Homo sapiens: one gene and its partner. The protein of the gene in region 1 purifies or fractionates together with the protein of each later gene. This does not show direct contact. Each region holds a gene or a part of one and is shown on either strand. Other genes may lie near its edges.

Region 1 (2,570 bases):
CACTTCAAATATCCATCAAGACTTAGTTGTACTAAACTAAGTTTTATGGCTGTAGCTTTTCCTTTGACATTGCTAATTGTTTAGCCAAATCAGCCATTAATTTTGGTATATTATCAGGGTGTATTGTTCTGTACATTCAATTTGTTTAAGAATGACTGTAAAGTTTGGACTTGTCTTATTTTTCTTCAGCATTTAGAATATTTGCCTTGTATGTTAAGGTCTAGAAATATACTCACAGCCCTTAGGTCCTAAGAGGGAATTTATGTTTGTTCATTTTATTCATGATCTGTGCCCTTTACTCAATTACCTCAGGTATGATATCTAACCAAAGACCCTCAGCAATTAATGAAATTGGAAGTAACAAAAGAACACAGGGAATTTTTATTAAGGAGGGCTCTTAATAACATTACTTGATTTCACCAGCAAATTTTAAACTAGCTCTTTATTTCTCATTTGGTGGTATATTAAGTTTTGATTATTTGTGGAAATATTTTATGATTGAGTATAGTGTGATAAAGAATATTTTAAAAAGTTATATCTCTTCTGTGTAAATTCAAATATCTATTGGACATTATATAGGAACATTTAATTTTAAAATGGCATTTGCTTTAGAGTTAAAACACTATGAACTGAGTTCTTATGAATTTCCCATGTGGTCTAAAACTAACAGATTTTTGAGAAATAACTTTTTAAAAATTAAAGTGAAAGAATTCAGCCCATACATTAAATTTCCAAAGATAAGAAGAGCATCTTTGTATTCTGTGTATATCATGTTAAACTAATTGTATTTTTTAACACCTGATATAATCATTCTGCAAAATCCATAACTTTTTATTAATTAGGAATTAGGTCACAGGAATACTGGTCTAATCATCAGAGAAATTACAGCTGTAGTGAAATTGTGATGAAGATAATGTTGATTGACTACCTACCAGCATACCTGAGACATAGTCGATGCTCAATGATATTAGGTCCTTTCTGTAATGAAAAAATCTCGTATATTCCAATCCCCTTTTTCACCAATTTATGAACATGTGGGTATGTGTTTATAAACACACATGTGCTTGTGTGATTTGGGGTTGGGTCACTCTGGTGCTCTATTTATATGATGCCAAGATTAATATTTATACCAGAATGAAAAGTCAGTTAACATAGATTGCTTACTGTCATGCAGGTAGGGTTTTAGGGTATTTCCTGCAAATATTTGCTTGCATTCATTTACTGTTATAGTAACAGGATAAAAATGTCTTGCTGGAGTAGATAAGGCCAATTTTCAAAAAAAAAAAAGCGCACTCTAGAATGAGGTTCTGGATAGCATAGTCTCCATGAAACAGCACGTAAAAACAAGTTTCAGAAGAATGGTATATTCTTCATTAAGAAGATGGGGAGGCATAATTATCATTAGCGATTAGGTTCTAGAAAAGTCCATAAAATAGGGATATAGGCTGGAGAGGGAAAATGACAGCCTACGGGCATGTAAAGGTATGGGTACTTTTTTGATCTACTCATTAAAAATCAATGACTACTGAACCATCACCAAGGGCAATTTTTGCCCTCGGAGATTCTGGTTGGCCAAATCTCAATAGGTAAGAGATTCAGGTAGGAACTGACAAGTGTCCTGGACAGATTCATTCACAAGTCTCCAATAAACACTGGAATAGCAGATGTCAGTCATAAATATAAAGATGACATACTGATAATATGATGAAATCAGTTTTAACTCTGCTGAAAATAAAGCCAACAGAATTTTGCATTGCTTTTAGAATCTGTAAACAAAATATCACTAGCATTTGAGAAAAACAAAAAAAGAACCTACAAACAACAAGCAGATAGGAAGGAAAGACAATTGCAGTCAAGGTAAAATCCATAGACTACAATTCTCAGTGGGAGCTCTTTATCTGGAAGAGGGATACCAGGATTTTGGCTGACTTAGAATAACAACAAAGCTTTTAAGAATGTTTCAGACTTTTCAGCTAGATTTTGCTTGAATGATTTGCTTGACATGGCTGAGTAGTTTATAAACAAGAATGTTCAAAAAGATTTTATTGCTTAAAAGCGTCAGAGAAGAAGCAAAATCTAATTATAAATACTTGCTTTGTCTTGACTATACTTTTCAAATTTAATTGTATGTTAGTTTGTATCTTCACAGTTACTTAATCTGGGCTTTTGCCTTTTTCCACCCATCATGTGGGAGGCTGGAAGAGTTGATAAGAGTTGGATTTATCTTAAAATCTACATTTCTCCTTAATTAATAATTTCAGATATTTTGAGGTTTATTTTACATTAAAGTTGAGTGATGATTATCTACCTTCTAAGATATAAAAATCATCTCAGAATTTTATAAACATTATGGCAACTTTTAAAATACAGTTAACATGTATGTCTAAAATCTTATTTTTACTCAATAAATAAAATGTTTCTGTAATATTTTTCCCTTTAATTTCAGATATTCATGAACTAGCCCTGTACTATGTTAAAATGAATACTAAATGCAAACATTTAAAAATCTGCATGTTGTCAAATTATCGAATGTATAAATAAATTAGGGAAGTTGAAAAGTGACATTTGAT
Region 2 (3,829 bases), on another chromosome or scaffold:
GTGGTGACAACCCCCAGTGGAGTGTTTGGGGGATGGGGAAGGCCAGAGGCCAGAGGAGGGTGAGGGCCAGATGTATGGTAGGTTTAGTTTGCTGGGTGACCATCAGGAACAGGTTCTCCTCTGGGGCTCCACTTTGGGGTGACCAAAACTTCCCACCACACACACACACATACATACAAGGCTCCACTTCAGGGTGACCAAAACTTCCCCAACACACACACACACACACACACACACACGACTTGTGTTGCTATCGCTGCAGGTTTATGTGCGAAGCACAGACTTTGACCGGACTCTCATGAGTGCTGAGGCCAACCTGGCTGGACTCTTCCCTCCCAACGGGATGCAGCGCTTCAACCCGAACATCTCGTGGCAGCCTATTCCTGTGCACACTGTGCCCATCACTGAGGACAGGGTAAGAGTGGCCAGCCCTTCCCTGGGGTGGTGAGGGGACAGCTCTGGCCGTAGGCCTGCTGATGCCAGGCTCCTTTTCCCGCTGCCTGTTTCCCCGCTTCGCTCTACAGCTGCTGAAGTTCCCGTTGGGCCCATGTCCCCGTTATGAGCAGCTGCAGAACGAGACCCGGCAGACACCAGAGTATCAGAATGAGAGTTCTCGGAATGCAGTGAGTGGGGGCAGAGGTGCAGCTCACCACGCTGTCTTTTCCCCAGAGCAGGACTGAGACCCTGATCCATTTTTCATAGCAATTTCTGGACATGGTGGCCAACGAGACAGGGCTTACAGACCTGACACTGGAGACCGTCTGGAATGTCTATGACACACTCTTCTGTGAGGTGAGCCCACTAGGGTGCCCACTGTGATCATTCTTTTCCCTCTCAGCAGGCCCAGGTCACCAGGACGGTAGAACACAGTGCCTGATACCGTCACGCCCCTGGGGAGGTCCAGGGAGGCTGTGCTTGTGAAACACGGGAACTTCCCTCATGGGTGACAGAGATCCTCAGAGTGGGAAATGGTTTATTAATTGTCAGCAGTCCCTGCTGCTCTCCACCCAGAGCTCCTTTCTGCTGAGTCTCACTTTTTGTGCCTGAGCTTCCTTTCCTGTGCCCTGAAGCATCCACACCGCCTGCCATGTCTACTGGTTCCAGCCCCTCTGCCTCTCTCCCCTCTCCCTCCCTCACACACACAGGCACCTTCCCACTAGGGAAGAGAGCTGCCCCCTGGAGAGGCTGGCCTAGGCCTGGGGCGCTAACCTGCCTGCTGCGATACACAGCAAACGCACGGGCTGCGCCTGCCGCCCTGGGCCTCACCCCAAACCATGCAGCGTCTCAGCCGGCTAAAGGACTTCAGCTTCCGCTTCCTCTTCGGAATCTACCAGCAGGCGGAGAAGGCCCGGCTTCAGGGGGGTGAGTGACAAGGACAGCGTGTCACTCTACTCCTCAGGACCCTAAGGCGTTAAAAATCTGCTGTGGGGGCTTCTCACACACTTCCCTCTCTACTGAAACACTCCCTGCTCTTTCAAAACCAAATCCCCCTCCTCATGCCGCTAGTCACCAAATTTCCCCACCTCTCTTCCTTTTCTGCCATTCATATTCTTTTTAAAAAAATTGTTATTTTTTTTCGGGGGGATGGAGTTTCCCTCTTGTCACCCAGGCTGGAGTGCAATGGCTCGATCTTGGCTCACTACAACCTCTGCCTCCTGAGTTCAAGCAATTCTCCTGCCTCAGTCTTCTGAGTAGCTGGGATTGCAGGCACATGCCATCATGCCTGGCTAACTTTTGTATTTTTAGTAGGAACGGGGTTTCACCATGTTCGCCAGGCTGGACTCAAACTCCTGACCTCAGCCACCATGCCCAGCTAATTTTTGTATTTTTAGTAGAAACAGGGTTTCACCATGTTGGCCAAGCTGGTCTTGAACTCCTGACCTCAGGTGATCCACCCACCTTGGCCTCCCAAAGTGCTGGGATTACAGGCATGAGCCGCCATACCCAGCCTATTTATTTTGAGACAGAGTCTTGCTCTGTCACCCAGGCTATAGTAGAGTGGCACGATCTCGGCTCATTGCAGCCTCCACCTCCCAGGTTCAAGCGATTCTCCCGCCTCAGCCTCCTAAGTAGCTGGGACTACAAGTGCCTGCCACCACGCCCAACTAATTTTTATATTTTTAGTAGAGATGGGGTTTCACTATGTTGGCCAGGCTGGTCTCAAACTCCTGACCTCTGGTGATCTGCCCGCCTCAGCCTTCCAAAGTGCTGGGATTACACACATGAGCCACCACGCCCAGCCCTGCCATTCATGTTCTTAAGTTTCGCCCACATCAGAAGACCCTCCCTCTCCTAAATGAATAGCTGCCCCAAGAGAACCACTGGGGGCCATTTTGAGAAGGCTGAGAGTAACACACATGCCAGCTTCCTTATTTGAGCACCTAAGGGCATGCCTGCTGTCACACCTTTTTGACATCTCACTTTTCAGAGCATATGGTAGTTACCCGGGCATGCACCCACCCGCTGTGTACTCTGAAGCAATCTTAAGTTTACATTTGTTTCAAACTGAAGTGCTTCTGTAAACACAGGCAGGTTTCTACATCCGTGTTGAAATATAGGCAGATATCTTGTTTTGTCTTGCTTCCTTCTGTACATTTGACAGTTCTTAGAGAGGAGGGGTGCCACAGAGTTCTTACATGGTCCCTATGACACTAAAGAGTTCTCCGTGTAGGTGATGAGGCCCAGGCCTGGCAGAGGGTGAAAGGAGCACAGATAGGTCTAATTAGAAGGCAGAGGTGGCTGTAGCCAGCAACACCGGGGACTTTTCTCCTTCAGGAGTCCTGCTGGCTCAGATAAGGAAGAACCTGACCCTAATGGCGACCACCTCCCAGCTCCCCAAGCTGCTGGTTTACTCTGCGGTGAGTGCCTGCGCTCCCTAGCGTGCTGTGTCAGGCAAGGAGCTGGATTTCTTCTCTGTTCGGTTCCTGCGGGTGTGGGGAACAATGCTGACGGGCAGCCCCTCTCCCCCGCAGCACGACACTACCCTGGTTGCCCTGCAAATGGCACTGGATGTCTACAATGGTGAACAAGCCCCCTACGCCTCCTGCCACATATTTGAACTGTACCAGGAAGATTCTGGGTGAGTGGAGCTAGCAGTGTCCTCTGGAGGGGGGCCCTCGGGAGGTGGCTCGGGGCAGCCCAAGGACCCCATGATGGGCAGGCTGAGCAGCTCCCATGTTGCCTCCTGTCGACCCTCAGGAATTTCTCAGTGGAGATGTACTTTCGGAACGAGAGTGACAAGGCCCCCTGGCCGCTCAGCCTGCCTGGCTGCCCTCACCGCTGCCCACTGCAGGACTTCCTTCGCCTCACAGAGCCCGTCGTGCCCAAGGATTGGCAGCAGGAGTGCCAGCTGGCAAGCGGTCCTGCAGACACAGGTGAGCTGTCACCGGCCTCCTTGCTAGTCATGCCCTAGACCAGCCTGCAGTTCACATCCACGCATCTCAAGAGCTGTCGCACTTCCAGCCATTTGACTGCATTTGCTAGGAGTTCCCTCCCCGACCCCAGACTGCTTTATACCTTCTCCCCACTTCTCACCCTCGGGTGATGTCTCACTTGTATCACCGAGAAAATAAGAGCCAAGAGAGAATTGGCTCGTTCTCCCACCACCAGGTTACTTCCTGGGGGAAGCCACCGCTTAGGGTGGCCTCTCCACCCGCACTTGGGTTCTCTCCTCATCTCTGCAAGGAGCTCTGACGCCTCTGCTTCTCTACTGGATCACTTCCCTCCCAAAAGCCCATCCATGACCTCTGAGAGCCACCTCTTCCCCAGCCACCAGCCTCTTCCCTCTCAGAATGGAATCCTTGAAAGAGCTGCCTAGAATCTGGCTCTG

What was found.
Region 2: the proteins of TRHR (region 1) and ACP2 purify together in Homo sapiens (affinity purification with mass spectrometry; 3 studies listed by BioGRID and IntAct, with this or other methods). This does not show direct contact.

The regions. Positions count from the first base shown.
Region 1 is NC_000008.11:109,119,800-109,122,369, reverse strand, and holds the end of TRHR (thyrotropin-releasing hormone receptor), read right to left. Parts: 3' UTR 805-2,570; downstream 1-804. UniProt on the Homo sapiens protein: Receptor for thyrotropin-releasing hormone (TRH). Upon ligand binding, this G-protein-coupled receptor triggers activation of the phosphatidylinositol (IP3)-calcium-protein kinase C (PKC) pathway.
Region 2 is NC_000011.10:47,242,268-47,246,096, reverse strand, and holds part of ACP2 (lysosomal acid phosphatase isoform 1 precursor), read left to right. Parts: intron 1-262; coding exon 263-415; intron 416-524; coding exon 525-623; intron 624-674; exon of another isoform or gene 675-702; coding exon 703-792; intron 793-1,229; coding exon 1,230-1,362; intron 1,363-2,775; coding exon 2,776-2,858; intron 2,859-2,972; coding exon 2,973-3,079; intron 3,080-3,198; coding exon 3,199-3,374; intron 3,375-3,829.